3 linked regions of the Homo sapiens genome follow. The protein of the gene in region 1 interacts with the protein of each later gene in a biochemical or structural test. Each region holds a gene or a part of one and is shown in the gene's direction. Other genes may lie near its edges.

The links.
Region 2: the proteins of UBE2V2 (region 1) and HLTF form a complex in vitro, tested with the Homo sapiens proteins (2 studies listed by BioGRID).
Region 3: the proteins of UBE2V2 (region 1) and MALT1 form a complex in vitro, tested with the Homo sapiens proteins (one study listed by BioGRID).

The regions. Positions count from the first base shown.
Region 1 is NC_000008.11:48,046,405-48,053,432, forward strand, and holds part of UBE2V2 (ubiquitin-conjugating enzyme E2 variant 2), read left to right. Parts: intron 1-3,448; coding exon 3,449-3,574; intron 3,575-7,028. UniProt on the Homo sapiens protein: Has no ubiquitin ligase activity on its own. The UBE2V2/UBE2N heterodimer catalyzes the synthesis of non-canonical poly-ubiquitin chains that are linked through 'Lys-63'. This type of poly-ubiquitination does not lead to protein degradation by the proteasome.
Region 2 is NC_000003.12:149,076,514-149,083,541, reverse strand, and holds part of HLTF (helicase-like transcription factor), read left to right. Parts: intron 1-7,028. UniProt on the Homo sapiens protein: Has both helicase and E3 ubiquitin ligase activities. Possesses intrinsic ATP-dependent nucleosome-remodeling activity; This activity may be required for transcriptional activation or repression of specific target promoters.
Region 3 is NC_000018.10:58,744,457-58,751,484, forward strand, and holds part of MALT1 (mucosa-associated lymphoid tissue lymphoma translocation protein 1), read left to right. Parts: coding exon 1-39; intron 40-1,209; coding exon 1,210-1,335; intron 1,336-2,948; coding exon 2,949-3,386; 3' UTR 3,387-7,028. UniProt on the Homo sapiens protein: Protease that enhances BCL10-induced activation: acts via formation of CBM complexes that channel adaptive and innate immune signaling downstream of CARD domain-containing proteins (CARD9, CARD11 and CARD14) to activate NF-kappa-B and MAP kinase p38 pathways which stimulate expression of genes encoding pro-inflammatory cytokines and chemokines.

The DNA.
Region 1 (7,028 bases):
ACCGCGTCTGGCCTAATTTTGTATTTTTAGTGGGGACAGGGTTTCTCCATGTTGCTCAGGCTGGTCTCAGACTCCCGACCTCAGATGATCCGCCCACCTCGGCCTTCGCAAAGTGCTAGGATTACAGGCGTGAGCCGCCGTGCCCGGTTGAGAGGAGGAAGACTTTTAACATGTTACATGGTTCGTTGTTTTTTATTTTTATTTTATTTTATTTTGAGATAGTCTCACTCTGTCAACCAGGCTGGAGTGTAGTGGCCCGATCACACCTCACAGCCTGGACCCCCTGGGCTCAAACAATCCTCCCACCTTAGCCTTCTGAGTAGCTGGGACTATAGGGGTACACCACCATACCTGGCTAATTTGTGTGTGTGTGTGTGTAGAGATGGGGGTCTCACTGTGTTGCCCAGACGGGTCTCAAACTCCTGGGCTCAAATGGCCCACCTGCCGTGGCCTCCCAAAGTGCTAGGATTATAGGCGTGAACCACTGTGCCTGGCCAGTTGTTTTTTATTTTTTGTACTTTATTGACTAAGGTCCCTCTTTTTTTTTTTTTTTGAGATGGAGCTTTGCTCTTGTTGCCCAGGCTGGAGTTCAGTGACACTATCTCGGGCTCACCGCAACCTCTGCCTCCCAGGTTCAAGTGATTCTCCTGCCTCAGGCTCCTGAGTAGCTGGGATTACAGGCATGCGACACCATGCCCGGCTAATTTTGTATTTTTAGTAGAGATGGGGTTTCTCCATGTTGGTCAAGCTGGTCTCGAACTCCCAACCTCAGGTGATCCACTCCCTTCGGCCTCCCAAAGTGTTAGGATTACAGGTGTGAGCCACCATGTCCAGCCAGATCCCTCATTTTTTATGTTGTTCTAGTATTTATTTGGATTTATATGATTAGCAGTTTTGTTTTTCTATGTTTTTGTGTTCAGTTTTCTGAAGCAATATTTGTTGTCACTAGAGTTTAGTACTTTTTCAAGTTTTCTCATATTTAATGAAGGTACTGTCCCCATCTTTAAAATAGAAACAGTGTGAGAATTAAGTGAAATAATGATTAGATAATAGGAGAATACCTGAGTACTTGACTTAGTAAATATTAGTTTGTTTTTCTCCTCTTTTTTTTGCTCTTGCTTTTTATTAGATAACAGAAAAACTTGACTGTTAATTAAAATTTTTTTTTTTTTTGAGACAGTCTTGCTTTGCCACCCAGGCTGGAGTGCAGTGGCGTGATCTCAGCTCACTGCAGTTGCCACCTCCCGAGTTCAGGTGATTCTCCTGCCTCAGCCTCCCGACTAGCTGGGATTACAGGCGTGTGCTACCAATTTTTGTATTTTTAATAGAGACGGGGTTTCACCATGTTGGCCAGGCTGGTCTCGAACTCCTGACCTCAGGCAGTCTGCCCGCCTTTGGCCTCCCAAAGGGCTGGGATTACAGGCATGAGCCACCACACCCAGCCTGTTAATTTAAAATTTAGAGGGGATAAAATCAAAGGTGTCAGAAGTTAGGGTGATATTTACTGTAAGAATTGGATTAGATTAATAGGCTAGCTTTGGGATTAAATTTTTTTTTGTTTACATAAAATCTTTCAGAAAAGAGCTTTGGGTTTTTTTTTTTTTTTTTTTAAACAAAAGGAATTGAGGTAGAATTTACATGTAGTGAAATGCACAGATGTGCCATGAGTTTGACAAATGTAGCTTGTTACCCCTACTGAGATACAGAACATTCCTGTCATTCCAGAAAGCTCCCTTTGCGCTTTCCCACACCTGAGAGATTTGCGTGTTGTAGAGCTTTGGTAAGTAGGGTCATGTAGTGTGTACACTTACGGTTCTTTACTCAGCATGAAGTCTGAGCAATTCAGTTGTGTTATCTCATGTAGTAGGAGTGTGTTTCTTTTTATTGTTGAATAGTATTTTACTGTATGGATATACCACAATGTGTTTATCACTTCTTTTTATGGACATTTGGATTTAATCTACTTTCTTGCTTTTACAAATAAAGCTGCTATGGGCATTCTTGTAGAAGTCTTTTTGTGAACATGTGTTTGTTTCCATTTCGCTTGGGTAAATGCCTAGGAATAGAATTGCTGTATCATAGGGGAGTCTGATATGCATCCAGATTGGAGAATCACAGCCAAGATAATCATGAGATCTATCTGATTTTAGTCATTTTTATATATTGAAAGTGCTGGGGATATTATTAATATTTGCTTGCTATTAATCTCAGATGAGTTTTATATAGCTCTTTTTTTCTTAAAGTATTGAAATATTTAATAACATACATATAACATTGTTGCATAGGTTTTACATTAGAGTAGTTTAATACTGCAAATCTGACCTCCATTTGGATAGCTCTTGTTTATGGGGATGGGATCAGTTTGAGTAGGTGAGATCTGTAGATGGTTGGTTAGCTTCCTCCCTCTCTGGTCTTATACAGCAGCCAGCAGATATTAAATTTTTCACTTTCATTTATTTATGTATATATTTTTATGTTATTTTAATTATAATTTAGAAAATTTAAAGTTTCAATAATTATAATTCTCTTTAAAACAATTTTTTTTTCTTTTTAATCTCTTGAGTCAAGGTGAGGATTCATTTATTTTTTACTTTGCTGTTTTAATGGTACACTAATAAGTTAACAGAGTGAACAAAAGCCATAGCAGAAAGAAGAGTTAATTTATAGGCATGAAAATAAGCCCTGGATAATCTAGAAGCTTTAAGTTTGATACCTATTTGAAAATGATGTGTAAACATAAAGTTTGCCATTGTATCTCTGAATTCAGATAATGGGATTTAATGAACCTCAAAATTAATGAAGTGGCAACGTAAGTATAACTAACAGGGGACATAAAATAATTATGTTTTATTGCTGCAAAATAGTATAATATGGGGTTTTCTCTTTTGCTAGAAGTTATTGATTGCCATATTTAGTAGGATAATCATATAATTTGTTATCCAACAAGACCCTTTTGAGAATGAAAGGAGGCACTGTTAATAGTCAATTCTGGGACAATAGGAATAAGCAGAACTGTTCTGTAAAACAGAAACCTTCATATATGTTTAACACAAGTCTCAAGTAGCCCCTCCCTCTACAATGTAAACTTTTTAGCAAAATCTAAATTTAAGTGGTTTGCTTTTTCGTTTTTCCTTCTTCGTTCTAATTTGTTACAGGCATCATTTTTATCACAAAAGCAACTTGGGATCATATTGATAATACTTTGTAGAATTAATTTTGTAAAATCTCATGGAATTAATTTTGTAAAATCTCAATTTTTAAGTATGCTTATTGCATTTTTTCTCACCATATAGGTGAAATAAATTTGAATGTAGAAAAATAAATTCTTAATCATAAACACTGTCTTACGTACATTCATATTGTACTTTCCCTTTTTTTTTTTTAGCACTTAGACATTAATATTTTAGGTATTGTTATTTTGATTATCTTTTTGTTTTTTGCCTTCCAGACAAATTATGAAAACAGAATATATAGCCTGAAAGTAGAATGTGGACCTAAATACCCAGAAGCTCCTCCGTCAGTTAGATTTGTAACAAAAATTAATATGAACGGAATAAATAATTCCAGTGGGATGGTAAGTTAATATAGTCATTTTGGTTTTATATAACATAATGTATAGAGTTATATATTATACGTACACACACCATAATATATGTAAGATATTAATATGTAGTTAGGAGAAAGTTTTTAAAAGAGGACCTTTGTTAAGCCAAAAGTCTAAAGAAGGTTGCATTATGTTGTTTTTCTTTTATTAATATAAATTAGGCCATCCTTAAAAACCTTAATGTACTTGCCTAGAATAGATGCATGTGGTGGTTAAAACTTTTTTTTTCTTTTCTTTTTTTTTTGAAACAGAGTCTCACTCTGTCACCCAGGCTGGAGTACAATTGTGCGATCTTGGCTCACTGCAACCTCTGCCTCCCGGCTTCAAGTGATTCTCCTGCCTCAACCTCCCGAGTAGCTGGGATTACAGGCACCTGCCATCATGCCCAGTTAATTTTTGTATTTTTGTAGAGACGGGGTTTCACAATGGCCAGGCTGGTCTCGAACTCCTGACCTTAGTTGATCCGCCCGGCTCGGCCTCCCAAAGTGCTGGGATTACAGGTATGAGCCACTGTGCCTGGCCAAAAGTTTTCTTAGGGTTTTAATTGCCTTAATAGTCATATTTCAGTTGATCTTTATTTGGTAAAAAGATGACCATTATTGGGCGGGGCATGGTGGCTCACGCTTGTAGAGATTGTGCCACTGCACTCCAGCCTGGGTGAAAGAGCGAAACTCCGTCTCAAAAAAAAAAAAAAAAAGAGATGATCATTATTTCTCTTTGAATGTTACTTTTCTGAGGGTTAAGGTACATTTGGTGGGATTAAAAGGATGACTGTTCATGAAAAGGATGAATATTCATGAAGGGTTTTTTTCTTTAAAGAGCAAATATGTCTGTGTTGAAACAGTCATGGCTGAGCATCATTGTCTATTTATTTTTGGGTTTCACTCTGTCCCCCAGGCTGTAGTGCAGTGGTACTCCCCCACTTCCTGTGGCCTCAAGTGATTCTCCCACTTCAGCCTCCCAAGTATGTGAGACTACAAGGCACATGCCACCAAGCCCATCTAATTTTTGTATTTTTTGGTAGAGATGGGGTTTCGTCATGTTGGCCAGGCTGGACTCAACTCCTGACCTCAAGTGATCTGCCCACCTTGGCCTCCCAAAGTGCTGGGATTACAGGCGTGAGCCACTGTGTCCAGCCCATTGTCTCTTTAAACAAAATGACATGCCCTGCTTGACCCACACAAGTTAGTTAGTAGAAACAGCTGAATTTCCAGTATGAGTAGATTGTTAAGTTCATGATAAGTCTTTGAAGCCTAGGCTCTCTTGGTGCCATGTTGAGAGCACGCCACATACAAAATACATTTTAGGAAGCAAAATAACATATCATCATCATAAAATGAGTATCATCCATCTTAGGAAATAGGGCCTCAGTATCCTTGATTTCTCATCCCATCCCTGCGTTCCCTCTCTCTACCAGTGTATTTTGTACTACAAATGTATCACATATGTACACAAATTCATCCTCCTTTCTTCTCTCCTTCTCTCTTTCCTTCTCATCTGTTTACCATCTGTTAAAAATCACGAGTTTATACTAACAACTCCCACTAATTTTATTCTAAAACTATAGGGTTTGTTCTATGATTCTTCCTTTCCAGTTGAGAAACCTGGCTCCCATGCTTCCCAGTGCATTTACTTATTTGCTCAATTTCCCCTTCATATAACTGTACTTCTGGCAACAAGTTGAATCTTGGATTCACAGCCAGCTCCCTGCCCCTCAACCCCAACCTAATACGCAGGTCTGAGGCGGGGCCCCAGATTGGCTGGTGCATCCAGCAGGGAGGCACCAGGCCAAATAAAGCATGACCCTGAGAAAGGAAGAAGCTGGGAAAGGTCATTGGAAACCTTAGCCCTGCACCTGCTGGGCCATTAACACCCCCCCACCCCTGTGCCAACTCAGAGCTGGGACCTGAGAGTCTCTCCAGCCCTCACAGTCCTCAGTTGGTCAGTCTTTGTGATTTACTGGGAGCATTTAGTCCATTTACATTTAATATTCTTAATTACTGACATGTTCAGGTTTAAACAGATCATCTTATTTGGTGGTTTCTATTTTTCTACATGTTTCTTGCCTACTTTTGGAATGGTTGTTCTCAACTTCTTTCATTCTGTTTGTGTTCTTTCAGTGATTATTCTAGAAATTATGCACACTTATCTATTTTTAAGAAATTTGATAGGAGCAGGATTATAAAGCATATGAGTACACAGAAAAGATATTATTTAGGGAATGTCCTGTGTGACACACAGCATTGCCTTTATGAAGAAGACCTTTGTTAGATTTTGCTACTAGACATATCTGGTTTTCTCCACTACTGTTTTGTTTTTACATTATAGCTTCTGTAAATTAAGTAACTAATGGTGTGTTCTACATTGTCATGGAAGCTAGGAAATTTAGATTAAATTTCAGACCTACCTCTAATAAGCTTATCTGATCTCTTGGGCTTTTGGTCCAGTAGTTGATATTTTGCCTCCCTCTCTACCTCCCTTCCCCCAACCCATTTATCATTAAGCCTTGTCAGTTTTATGTTCCAAATGTGACTGGATTTAGGTCTTATTTTTCTATTTACATTGCCACCAAGTGAATATTGGCCATCATTTATTTCCTGGACTCTTGCAACAACGTCTCTGATTCTACTTTTTAAAATCCCTTCCAGTCTTTCCAAAGTTAGCAGCCAGAGGGATCCTCCTAAGAGACAAATTGCGTCGTGTCATTTCTGCACTTCAGATTCCTTTAGGGGCATCAGCCTCAGCATGCATGCTTCTTGCCATGGCTCACTGGGAGTGCTCAAGGTGCACACTGGCCTGCATGCCTTTCGTTTGGTCTCAAGACCTTTGCACTTCTGTTCTTCCTCCTTCCTCCCCAGTCTGGCTAACTCCTATGGGTCCTTCATTTCTCACTGTAAATTCCACTTTCTTTTTTATTGAGACAGAGTCTCACTCTGTCACTCAGGCTGGAGTGCAGTGGCATGATCTCGCTCACTGCAACCTCCATCTCCTGGGTTTAAGTGATTCTGCTGCCTTAGCCTCCCAAGTAGCTGGGACTACAAGTGTGTGCCACAACACCTGGCTAATTTAATACAGATGGGGGTTTGCCATGTTGGCCAGGCTGGTCTCAGACTCCTGACCCGCGTTGGCCTCCCAAAGTGCTGGGATTACAGGCATGAGCCACCGCACCCAGCCTAAATTCCACTTTTTAGTATCTTTATTGATGTTCCAACTTGAATTATGTCCCTTCTATTGCTCTGTTAGAGTCACTCTTATTCTTTTGTTGCACTTAACTATAAATTTATTTTTTTGTTTTTAAAAGAAATGTTTCTAACATAATAGAAGTTTTAGAGAATGATAGAACCAGCATCTATGTGTCCTTCACCTAGCTTTGTCAAATGTTAACATTTGTCTTATTTGTAACAGATCTTTTAATTTTTTTTTT
Region 2 (7,028 bases), on another chromosome or scaffold:
TTTGTGCTAATTTTTCAAAACTTACATTGCTTTCGATAATTATTTTATACCACCATGAAATACTAGATTATGGTAGTTATTGATCTTAGAACAATCAGTATTTTTGATCTGAGAATAATCTCTATGACTTCGGTAAACTCTAGTGTGTGTTGATAAAAAGTAATCATCAGTTTTCTTATTTTGCCAAATATATATACTTTAAATTTTATTTTTTTCCAGGAACACTATGTTGAGATATCATTTATTTTATAATTAATGCATGTTCTTTTATTTGTTTTTGTTTTTTTTTTGAAACGGAGTCTTGCTTGCATTGCCCAGGCTGGAGTGCAATGGTGCAATCTTGGCTCACTGCAACCTCCGCCTCCCAGGTTCAAGCGGTTCTCCTGCAACAGCCTCCTAAGTAGCTGGGATTACAGGCATGCGCCATCATGCCCAGCTAATTTTTTGTATTTAGGAGAGATGAGGTTTTGCCATGTTGGTCAGGCTGGTCTTGAACCCCTGACCTCAGGTGATCCACTCACCTCGGCCTTCCAAAGTGCTGGGATTACAGGCATGAGCCACCGCGCCCAGCCACGTTCATTATTTTTAAATGGCTAAAAAGGCATTAAATCTTCTGAAGTCTATCATCCAGAACCATAACTTATCTTCTACACTTGTTTCTGTGAGCATGTGCATGTAAATTGGAATCATATTATGTATTAATAAAAATGAGATCATATTATGCCTAATGTGATTAGGAATATCATCTATATTGGACTTATAATTTCCTTGTTGATGGACATTTTTGAGTTAATCACTATTATAAAAATAATAAAAATTGAGATACTATCTTTGCATACTTGTTATTTTAATTTTTTTTCTACTTTATTGAGATGTGGTTTACGTATGATAAAATGTACATATTTTAAATGTATGATCCTAGTGTTTTGACAAAGATGTATACCTGATAACTACTACCCCAATCAAGATACAGATTGTATCCGTCTCCCTCAAAGTATCTTGTATCCTATTGCATTCATTTTTCCCTGTTCCTGCCCTAGGCAGCCACGAGTCTCATTTCTTTTCTTTTTTTTTGTTTTTTTTGAGACGGAGTCTCGCTCTGTTTCTCAGGCTGGAGCGCAGTGGCGGGATCTCGGCTCATTGCAAGCTCCGCCTCCCAAGTTCATGCCATTCTCCTGCCTCAGCCTCCCAAGTAGCTGGGACTACAGGCGCCTGCCACCATGCCCGGCTAATTTTTTTGTATTTTTGGTAGAGACGGGGTTTCACCGTGTTAGCCAGGATGGTCTGTATCTCCTGACCTCGTGATCCGCCCGCCTCGGCCTCCCAAAGTGCTGGGATTACAGGTGTGAGCCACTGCGCCCGGCCACACAAGTCTTCTATCACTATAAATAAGTTTTGCCTATTCTAGAACTTCATATACATTGAATTCTACAGTATGTACTATTTTAAGTCTGGCGTTTTTCACTCAGCATAATTTAGGTACTTCTTTGGTCTATTTTGGTTAGTTACATTTTTGAAGAAAAGCATCCATTTTATTTAGATATTCAAACTTATTCCCATAGAATTGTGCATAGTAATCATTTATCCTTATAAAATTGTAACTGTAATTTTCTGGAATTGGGGTTTGGTGGTATGATGTGTTGCTCACAAGTGGCCAGAACTCCTATTCCTGAAGGATTTTGAATTGGAGGAACACATACTTAAACTCCCTTTTATGCCTTGGTTCTAGTTACTCTTTCCAAGTTGAATAACCATTTTTTTGGTTGTTTTAAGTTGGTGCTCTGAACCTTAAATTTCAGTACCCTTTACTCTGAATTGTCAAATTTTGATAAAATGTGCCATTTTTTTAATGTCTGCCAGAACATAATTTTATATGCCTTATTGGCTCCATTAAACTTTTTAAAAACTTTTTTAAAAAGGTGATTATATTCCTGTTTTTATTCTTTGTGTTACACATTCGTGTCTTTTTTATTGATTAGCTATGACATTATTTCTTTTCAAGGCAGGCTCTCTTGAATTTTTCTTAATGATTGTGTTTCTTGGCTTAATAATTACTCTTACATTCGGTTTTTCTACTTAGATTTATTTTCTTTTCATTTCTGTTGGACTTGCGATTTGAGCACTTAATTTGAGTCATTTAATCTTTTAATCTTTAAACGTGTTAAGTATTGCGTTGCCTTTAGCCACCACGTTTTGTTATGTAGTAGCATTCTTTATTTTTAACTCTGGTGTTTTCTTATTCTTATTTCATTTTTATTTTTTGTTTTTTTTTTTTTAGTGTGTTTTCAATAAGCATATGGTTAAGTTTATTTTTTGACCCATCAAAGGCTTTATTTTATAATGTGGTTTATTTCTTTTTCTATTTTAAAATACAGTTATGTGTTGCTTAACAATGAAGATACTTTCTGAGAAAAGTGTTAGGTGATTTCTTTGTGGAAACAGAGTGAACAAGATGTTACTTTACTGAATACTGTGGGCAATTGTAACACATTTGTGTATTTAAGCATATATAACATGAAAAAAGTACAGTAAAAATATTGTATAAAATATGAAAAATGGTACACTTCTATAGGGCAGCCCCATTATAATCTTGTGGAACAACTGTTGCATAATGCATGTGGTCTGTCATTGCTGAAATGTTGTTATGCGGGGTATGACTATACTGTTATGATTAATTCTCATTCCTTTTGTTATTCTTGTCTTTGTCTTTTTGTTTTTTTATATGTCCTGTTTTTTCTTGCTGCTGGGACCATGTTTTTGTTTTTATAGTCTCCAATATTTTGGCTCATATATATTTTATTTAAAATTCTAGTAATTACTTATTTGTAACGACAGTTAACTAATTGTAATTAATGATAGCTTATTATGATAAATTACAATTATGTAATACCTTGAGATGAAATGCTCAAAAATTGTTAGTTTTGTGCCCTGCTTTTTTATTTTGGTTATGTATTTTCTAGGATTTGCATAATCCGGTTTAAAAAAGATCATCCTGTAGGCAGTGGCAGAGGGGTGGCGACTGGGAGAGAACATAGCTCTGCCTCATAGATAATATCTCTAAAAGTCTAGAGATGAATATCTGTCTAATACTCTGTTTAGTTCTGGCTGTAATCTCTTGAGTCAGTAGACATGCTGGGAGAGGTTTGAAGCAGCTTTCTTGTATATTTTCAAGGAATTTTTTAAAATTGAGATACATTTATTATAAAATTTACCATTTTAAAGTGTACAGTTGAGTAGTTTTTAGAATACTCACAAGGTTGTGCAACCATCCCTACAATCTAGTTCCAAAACATTTTCATTACTCCAAAAAGAAACCTCATTCCCATTTGTAGTCACTCCCATTATCTCTACCCCTCAGTCCCTGGCAACCATGAATCAGTCTTCTTCCTGTGTATATGGATTTACCTCCTCTTGACATTTCACGTAAATGAAATGATACAATATGTGGCATTTGGGTCTGGCCTCCAATACTCATTTTTATGTTAAATAGATTTTTTTTTTTAGTGTACTATTTTAATTCCCTTGTTTCTTTTACTATATATTTTGAGTTACTTATGATTGCTTTAGGGATTACAATTAACAACTTAATTTATAAGAACCTAGTTTGGATTAGTGCCAACTTAACAGTATATAAAAAACTTTGTGGCTGGGCATGGGGCATGGTGGCTCACGCCTGTAATCCCAGCGCTTTGGGAGGCCAAGGTGAGTGGATCACGAGGTTAGGAGATTGAGACCATCCTGGCCAACATGGTGAAACCCCATCTCTACTAAAAATACAAAAATTAGCTGGGCATGGTGGCACCTGCCTGTAGTCCCAGCTACTTGGGAGGCTGAGGCAGGAGAATCGCATGAACTAGGGAGTCAGAGGTTGCAGTGAGCCGAGATTGTGCGACTGTACTCCAGCCTGGTGACAGCAAGACTCTGTCTCAAAAAAACAACAACAAAGAAAACCCCAAAAAAACCTTTGCTCACAGCTCCATCCTATTGCCTTCCTTTGTGCTGTTATCCAAGTTATATCTTTATATATGTAGTATACCTATCAACAAAGATTTATAATTATATACTTTTTAATGAGATAGGACAAAAATTACAAAAAATTATACTTAAAAATTTTTATTTTTTTAAATAATTTTTTTTTTTTTTTTTTTTTTTTTTTTTTTTTTTTTTTAGAAACTGTCGTTACCCTTTTGCCCAGGCTGGTCTCAAACTTCTTTTGACAGTTTGATTATGATGTGACCAGGTGTGGATCTCTTTGAGTTTATTTTAGTTGGAGTTGTTGAGCTTCTTATATGTGTAGAGTAGTGGTTTCCATCGAATTGGGAAGGTTTTGGCTGTTATTTCTTTAAATATTTTTTCTGCCCCTTTCTCTTTTCTCCTTATGGTACTCTTATGTATGTGTGTTGGTATGCTTGATATTACAAGTTTCTGAGGCTCTGTTGTGTGTCATTTTTTTGTTCCTTAGATTGTATAATCTCAATTGACCTATCTTCAGCTTCGCTGATTTTTCTTATGCCTGCTCAAATTTGCTGTTGAGTCTCTCTGGTGAATTTTTTCTTCAGTTATTGTACCTTTTGACTCTAGAATTGCTGTTTGGTGAGACATCGTCTCCATGCTTTTAGACATGCGTTTTCATGTCGAAAGAAATGATTTGCTTTAGGTCTTTGAACTTATTTTTTTTTTTTTTTGAGACGGAGTCTTGCTTTGTCGCCCAGGCTGGAGTGCAGTGGCACGATCTCGGCTCACTGCAAGCTCTGCCTCCCAGGTTCACATCATTCTCCTGTGTCAGCTTCCCGAGTAACTGGGACTACAGGCACCCGCCACCTCGCCCGGCTAATTTTTTGTATTTTTAGTAGAGACGGGGTTTCACTGTGTTAGCCAGGATGGTCTCGATCTCCTGACCTCGTGATCCGCCCACCTCGGCCTCCCAAAGTGCTGGGATTACAGGCGTGAGCCACTGTGCCCGGCCAGGTCTTTGAACTTTTTAATTTTTTAGAGATAGGTTCTTGCTCTATTACCCAGGCTGGAGTGCAGTGGCGTGATCATAGCTCACTGTAACCTTGAACTCCTGCATTCAAGCAGTCCTCCCACCTCAGACTCCTGAATAGCTGGGACTACAGGCATGTACCACCATACCTGGCTAATTTTTCTATTTTTATTTTGTAGAAATGGGGTCTTGCTATGTTTCCCAGGCTGGTCTCAAATTCCTGGCCTCAAGAGATCCTCACACTTCAGCCTCCTAAAGTGCTGGGATTACAAGTGTGAGCCACCATGCCCAGCCCCTTTGAACATATTTAAAATAACTGACTTAAATTCTTTTTCTACTATGTCAAACATCTATACTTTCTTGGGGACAGTTGACATTGATTGCTTTTTTTCCCTGTGTATAGACCATACTTTCTTATTTTTTTTGCATGTCTTGTACTTTTTTTCTTGAAAAATTGACATTTTAAATAATGTGGCAGCTCTGGAAATCAGGGTGGTTTGTTGTTGCTGAGTTTTGTAATTAGTGTGTGTTTGTTAGGCTTCTAGGGTGGTTTGTTGCTGAGTTTTGTAATTAGTGTGTGTTTGTTAGTGACTTTCCTGAATTAATTCTGTGATGTCTATCCTTTATCGTGTGTGGTCACTGAAGTCTGTACTTGGTTAGCTTAGCGGTCAGCTGATGATTGTGCTGGAACTAATAAATCGTACATTCTTTGCTGAGAACTTCTGTATGTTAGGGCATTCCTTCAACACTCTAAGGCCCCTGACAACTCTGCTTTAGCTTTCACTTCTGGCTTGTTTAAATGCTCAAGTTCAGGCAAAGGTGAGCGTTTAGGGCCTTCTCAGGTCTTTCTTGAGAATGTGCACAGCCCTGGTCATGCATACCAGCCCTGTGCTTGCTTACGGCCTTCTAGATATCCAGAAATACACTGGAGCTTTTCAAAGCCCTCACAGACATCTCATTCCCTAGCTCTTCTTTATAAGCCTTTTTGTTTTTTTGCTTCAGCTGTTATCCACTGCCTCAGGTAGCCATGAAGTTAAAACACTTTCCTGTAAAATTGTTTTGACAAACATCCGCCCAAGGGAGGTTTTTTTGTACTTGGTGAGCTCAGAGGTTAAATACAGTCAGCCTTGCAAGTGGGGTCTTCCGGGGAACTTCAGGAGAATAACAGTTCTTTGGGAATGAATCTCTGAAAGAACTGTAACTCCATTCTCTTTTTTTCTGGTGACTGCCAGGCTTTACCTAGGATCCCAACAAGCTATTATTTTTATTTATTTATTTATTTATTTATTTATTTATTTATTTATTTATTTTGAGATGAAGTCTCGCTCTGTCACCAGGCTGGAGTGCAGGGGCACTATCTTGGCTCACTGCAACCTCTGCCTGCCGGGTTCAAGTGGTTCTCCTGCCTCAGCCTCCCGAGTAGCTAGGACTACAGGCGCGTGCCACCACACCCAGCTAATTTTTGTATTTTTAGTAGAGACGGGGGTCTCACCATGTTGGCTAGGATGGTCTTGATCTCTTGACCTCGTGATCTTCCCACCTCGGCCTCCCAAAGTGCTGGGGGCGTGAGCTACTGTGCCTGGCCGTGAGCTATTTTTAAAGGCTACAGGATTGCTGGGGATGGGACTGAAGTACTGATATTCAGCTGTTTATTCTTTTTATTCTTGAATAAATGTTACCCAGATTTCTGCAAGCCTTTGATTTAGTTCTCAGTGTTCTGAAACATTTGATTCTGACAAATAATTTATCTAGTTTTTTTGTTGCCTTTATTGAGGAATTTTTGAAAGTCCTCATTCTACCATTCTTTATTGTGTTACCCTCCTTCAGTTTTTAAAAATATACATCATAATATTTAAGTTAAATCATACAGTTTTTAATAAAGTAGAATCAGAATGGCATGAGTTGAAGGCTGGATATATTTTTCTTACCTAGTTCCATCCTGACTTATAAATGCCTTATTCCCTGACTTTTATATTCTGGAGAATTGAGGCTCAGGAACCACCCTGTGTGGGTTCAGATCCTAGCTCTGCTACCTTTTAGCTTT
Region 3 (7,028 bases), on another chromosome or scaffold:
ATAATAATGTGTGATGCCTACGTTACTGATTTTCCACTTGTGAGTCTCTTCTTTTATTTAAAATACAGTGATATATTCTCACTTATTAAAGACTAAATTTTTTAAAACTTAAAGTTGATGGTAAATATAAAGGAAATATATATATTTATATATGTGTATATATTTATAGTTTAGTAACACTGATCATAATATTTACTAATTGCCAAAATACCTTAAGTTTATGAGATTTAGAAATGTCTAAAGTTCACTCAGGAAGGATGCCTCTAATTTCTTATATCCTAAACACGAGAGCCAATGTGAAGGAATAAAATGTGCTATAAATATGTCAAGAATAATTTCCTTTTAAACAGTTATAACTTATATTGGAAACAGTAGTTTTTAAGTCTTGTTAAGGTATGGTCATATGCTGGAATAATAGAAATCTAGTTCTGCTCTTTTCAAACATTTAGGTTTGATAGTTATTTTACGTTGGTCTAAAGAAGCCAGTAAATAGTACCCCTCTTTCCTACATGAGTGTGACAAACTGAGAAGCAAGCAAGGAGTAAGACAAGCAGAAACCCAAAATATCACTTTGATTACTGATAGAGGCTTTGTGGAGGATATTGCTTCATGTCAGAGTAAATGGTCTAGCACCAAACCCCAGAATTGAGTGGCCACCCCACACCTCCAGTCTCAGCAGTACGGAGCCCAGATAGGCTTCCTGAGGTACTGAGCAAGCTGGGGGCCTGTGGGCTTCTCACTGGAGCAGCAGAACCCTTACTCTTGGCCATTGGGTTGGCTCTAAAAGAAGAAAAAGGAAAAGGCTGTTTATTTATCCTTCTTAAATATTCTAATCATATAAATTTCCCTGCACCTTCCCAAAAGTGATGATTAAGAGGAGAGAATCCAGGAGTCAAACACTAATGGGGCTCTCTCTGCTTAAGAGGAAACTTGAGTAGCTCAAGAAGCATTTCTAGGAATCATTTGAAAGGAAGCTCTTTCAGAGCTCACTTTACTTTTTAGATGGCTTAGTACAGAATTGAGAATTCCTATTATAACCATAGATTGTTGTTTTCATTGTTTAGTCCTGGATAATTTTGGGATTACCAAAATTCACGAGAGGCCAGAATTCACGAGAGGATAGTATCAGTTAAGATGTCTTATGTACTAGATTATATTGTGGCTTTCATTGATTTCATTATTAACAGTCCCTAATTTTTTTTTTTACAGGATCTAGATATTGATCCAAAAGATGCAAATAAAGGCACACCTGAAGAAACTGGCAGCTACTTGGTATCAAAGGATCTTCCCAAGCATTGCCTCTATACCAGACTCAGTTCACTGCAAAAATTAAAGGTTACTACCTTTTCTGTTTATAGCTACTAATGGAAAACTTTATGAAACTGGAAACTTATTTTGGCATAGACCATAGATATGCTGCCTTATTATTAAAGTAGAGATAACCAGTCTACAGAAGGTCCTATCAGTGACCCTTTTTATATTCTGTTTCCGATGGTGACCAGAGGACTTTATGTGTGCTTACCCTCCAGAATGCTAAAAAATTAGTAACATTAGAGTATATTCTTTTTTCTTTTTTTAGAGACAGAGTCTTAACTCTGTCACCCAGGCTGGAGTGCAGTGGCATGAACATGACCTACTATAACCTCAAACTCCTCAGTGCATATGATCCTGCCACCTCAGCTTCCCAAGTATCTGAGTCTACAGGCACATGCCACTACACCCAGCTAATTTTTTAAAACTTTTTGTGGAGAAGGGATCTCACTATATTGCCCAGGCCAATCTCAAACTCCTGGCCTCAAGAATCCTCCCTTCTTGGTCTCCCAAAGCACTCGGAGTACAGGTGTGAGCTTCCACTCCCAGCTCCATATTCTACTTTTAAATATGTTCAGATTTTCAAGTAATCATTTCCTAGTTCTATGACTAGACATATAGCAAATTAGAATTTTTTTTCCATTTTTTTATTTCTAGTTGACTTACAAATGAGAAGCTAGTTCTGCACATTGAGTGTTCTAATGAAAGCTTTTAATTTGTTCACAACTACATGACCATAGAATGTATCAGCTAAAACTCAGGGAATGGAATGGGCATGATTGAGAATTACACACATAAACCTGTTGTCATCCTGTTCGGAGCTCATCTACTTAAAATCCTTTCTTCTCTTAAAAAGTTAGCCCATTATCTGATTCAGTTATATTTTCCACCTACGATTATGGATTACTATAATATTTTAAAAACAGCTTAAGCTTTTTTTATAAAACTGGTATAAAACCAGGTTTTTTTTTTTGTTTTGAGATGGTGTCTCTCTCTGTCGCCTAGGTTGGAATGCAGTGGCGCGATCTCAGCTCACTGCAACCTCCACCTCCCAGACTCAAGTGATTCTTGTGCCTCAGCCTCCCGAGTAGCCAGGACTACAGGCGCACACCACCATGCCCAGTTAATTTTTTGTATTTTTAGTAGAGACAGGTTTCACCACGTTGGCCAGACTGGTCTTGAACTCCTAACTTCAAGTGATCCATCTGCGTCATCCTCCCAAAGTGCTGGGATTATAGGCGTGAGCCACCACGCCGGGCCCAGATCATTTTTTAATTAAAAGTTAATACCCCATCTCTAATAATAGGGAAGGGTAAGTTTCCTAAGCTGCACTGCTTGGAAAATGTTTTCCCTGTTCATCTAGAGTGTAAGAAAGATCTCTTTGACTTTGACTACTAACAGTAGTAAGAACTAGAAATTCTAAATGGGTTGTAAGTATTGCATGAAGGAAAAGGAAGATAATGATAGCTGGCGTTTCTCAGTTTCAGGGAGATATAAAGGATGCCTTGAGGATTTGGAACCTGGGAAAGGAGAGTGAGTGGATTTTTGGGGGTGGGGGTGTGTATGTGTGAATATTTTCAGATTGATATATATTCACTGTTGATGCCAATAATAAACCAGATTTTTTTCCTTTTCAGGAACATCTAGTCTTCACAGTATGTTTATCATATCAGTACTCAGGATTGGAAGATACTGTAGAGGACAAGCAGGAAGTGAATGTTGGGAAACCTCTCATTGCTAAATTAGACATGCATCGAGGTTTGGGAAGGAAGACTTGCTTTCAAACTTGTCTTATGTCTAATGGTCCTTACCAGAGTTCTGCAGCCACCTCAGGAGGAGCAGGGCATTATCACTCATTGCAAGACCCATTCCATGGTGTTTACCATTCACATCCTGGTAATCCAAGTAATGTTACACCAGCAGATAGCTGTCATTGCAGCCGGACTCCAGATGCATTTATTTCAAGTTTCGCTCACCATGCTTCATGTCATTTTAGTAGAAGTAATGTGCCAGTAGAGACAACTGATGAAATACCATTTAGTTTCTCTGACAGGCTCAGAATTTCTGAAAAATGACCTCCTTGTTTTTGAAAGTTAGCATAATTTTAGATGCCTGTGAAATAGTACTGCACTTACATAAAGTGAGACATTGTGAAAAGGCAAATTTGTATATGTAGAGAAAGAATAGTAGTAACTGTTTCATAGCAAACTTCAGGACTTTGAGATGTTGAAATTACATTATTTAATTACAGACTTCCTCTTTCTAAGATTTTGTGAATTGGTTGAATAGTTCTATACAAATGAAGTATGGAGGTGTGTATGTTTATATGTATATAACAAAATATTTTCATTGTGACCACTCTGAAGTAAGAGCAATGGGAATGGCATTATTGTAGAATAAGTCATTGTATTTTTAACACCAGAAAGAACCTTGCCGATCACCAGGCATAACCTAATTTTATCCATGGAAGAAACACAGAAAGGCATCTAAGTTAGAGCTGGCACCAGAACTGAGACCTCCAGAAATCTATTCCAGTATTTTTTCCACTACACAACTGCCTTCCTGACAGGTTCTGAGATAAGTGTTATGTTTGTAGATAGAGTGAAATATATTTATATATATATAAATATATACAGATACATATCTGTGTATTATCTCAAGGAATGTACAAACTTTAGTTTTTGATTATAAGGACTTCACTGCAAGTTTTAGTTAAGAGGTTTGTATATAAATCTGTTATAGAACAGGCTGAAATTTCTTGTTCATAAGATTATGAAACCACATGAGAAGTGATAAAATGTTTGTTAAAGCTAGATAGAGGTTAAGAATCAAGATATAATGGATAATTTTCATAGCTGCCTATCAGAATTTCCCAAATATTTAGCATCTTCCTTGATAATATGTATTTTCTTCTTGAATTTCACTGGCCTAATGAGATAATACTCTTATCTTTGGCTCTACCTAAAAGTTGGTTAAAAATGCAATTGGCATTAACAAGGAAAAATACTGAATTAGTAATTTTAAAAGTCTCACAAAGAAAATCCCAGGCCTAGATGGCTGCATTGTTGAATTCTGCCAAACATTAAAATTAGCACTAATTTTTTGCACACTGTTTCTAAAAGTAGGAGAGGAAAGAACACTTCCCAACTTACTCTAGGTCAGTATTACCCTGATACTAGACTAGACATCACAAGAAAACTATAAGCCAATATTCCTTATTAATACAAACACAAAAATCATTAACAAAAATATTAGCAAACTGAATCCAGCAACCTATAAAAAGGATTCTATATCATGACCAAGTGGAATTTATCCCAGGAATTCAAGGTTGGTTCAACATCTAAAAATCAAATAAGCTAATATACAGTCAGTTCTCATTATTCACAGTAATTATGTTCTACAGAATATTCTCCCATAAACACTGAATTAAATATGGAACAACTGCTTTTAGGAGAAAGTGTATTTGTGTATATGTGTGTATACATATGTTTATCTCACACACATTATGAGCTTGAATTCTTAATTCATCCTAGCAAATTCTACCTTATTTTACAGAAGTGAAAGTGAGGTATCAGAAGTGTTAAGTGACATGCCTGAGGCACCCCCCTAACAGGTGTCAGAGCTGAAATTCAAACCCCATCCAGCTGGCCCCGGAGCCAGAGCTTCTTGTACTACACAGAATTGCCCCTGCCATTTCCACCCTCCAGTCATTTCTCTATGAGACTGAAGCAGGAAGGCAGAGCATCATCTTGTTCAGCCTCAGCTGGGAACATGTGTACTGGGTGACTCAAATTTTTCACCCATTTACACATATCCACAAATGACTGCAAAAGTGCCACGGATATCAATTTGAGGGTTATAAATTTTAGCAAGTTGGTAAATTCACAAATACATAACCTTGAATAATGAGGATCAACTGTACCATATTTAATAAAGCACAAAACCCACACAGATTGTCTTATTACAGCATTTGATAAAATCCAAAACTCTTTCATAAAAACACTCAACAAACTTAGGAATAAAAGGAATCTTCCTAGATATGATAAATATAACATCTATGAAAAGCCCACACCTAACATTATACTTCATGGTGATAGACTGAAGGCTGAATGTTTTCCCCTTAAGATTGGGAAGAAGGACAAGGATGTTCACTCGGCACTACTTCTATTCAGCATTGTACTTGAAGTTCTAGCCACAGCAGTTAGGTTAGGAATTCAAGGTTTGTTCAACATCTAAAAATCAAATAAGCTAATAAAGAAAAGAGGTTTATACTGCAAAAGAAGTGAAACTATATGTATTCACAGTTGATACATAGTTGTATATAGAAAATGCTAAAGAATCCATAAAAAGTAATAAATGAGTTCAACAGGTTGCAGGATACAAGATCAGTTTTATTTCTCTACTAACAGCAAACATTCTGAAAATGAGAATAAAGAAATCCTATATACAGTAGCATCAAGAATAAAACTCCAACACGTTTAAAGAAATTAAGATCCAGATAAATGGAAAGACATCCATGTTCATGGATTGGAAGACTGAATATTGGTAAGATGGCAATGCTGCCCAAATTAGTCTACATATTCAACAATTCCTATCAAAATCCTAGCTGTATTTTTTGCAGAAATTGACAAACTGGTAAAATTGGTAGGGAAACGCAGGGGACCCAGAATAGCCAAAAAACCTTGGAAAAGAACAAAGTTGGAAGACGTACCAATTTCAAAAAGTGCTACCAAGCTACAATAAGACAGTGTAGGCATATGGATAGACATATCGATCAGAGGAATGGAACTGAACATCCAGAAATAAACCCATACATTTCTGGTCAACTTGTTTTCAACAAGGATGCCAATACCATCAATAGAGAAGGAGTGGTCTTTTCAACAAACGGTGCTGGGACAACTAACTGGTAGCTACGTGCACAGCAAAAGGATCCCTACCTTCCTACCACATTACAAATTCTAACTCAAAATGGATCATAGACCTCAATATAAGAGTTTAAACTCTTAGAAGAAAACAGAAGTAAATCTTTGTGATGTTGGGCTTAGGAATGGTTTCTTAGACATAATACCAAAAGCACAAGCAACAAAGGCAAACAGTAGATAAATGGGACTTCATCAAAATTAACTTTAGCGCCTTAAAGGACACCATTAAGAAAGTGAAGTTAACCCTCAGAATGGGAGAAAAATTTTTGAAAAATCATGTATCTGATAAAAAAACAAACAAACATGCAGGTGCTCAGCTGTGGTTACCACCGAGCAGCACTGTCCAGTGAACTTGCTGTGATGATGGGATGCTTGGTATCCGCACTCCCAGTGTGATAGCCTTTAGCCTCATGGGGTTGTTGAGCAGTTGAAATAATAGCTAGTGTGAGGAACTGAACATAAAATTTTAGTTTTAGGATGGGTGTGGTGGCTCACGCCTATAATCTCAGCACTTTGGGAGGCCAATGAAGGCGGATCACTTGAGCCCAGGAGTTCAAGACCAGCTTGACCAAGATGGCAAAACCCTGTCTCTATTAAAAATACAAAAAAATTAGCTGGGCATGGTGGCACACACCTGTAATCCCAGCTACTAGGGAGGCTGAGGCAGGAGAATCGTACTTCCCCTTTATACTCTTCTGTATATTTGATTTTTTTTTTTTTAAGACAGAGTCCTGGCTCTGTCGCCCAGGCTGGAGTGCAGCGACATAGTCTCAGCTCACTGCAGCATCCGTGGAG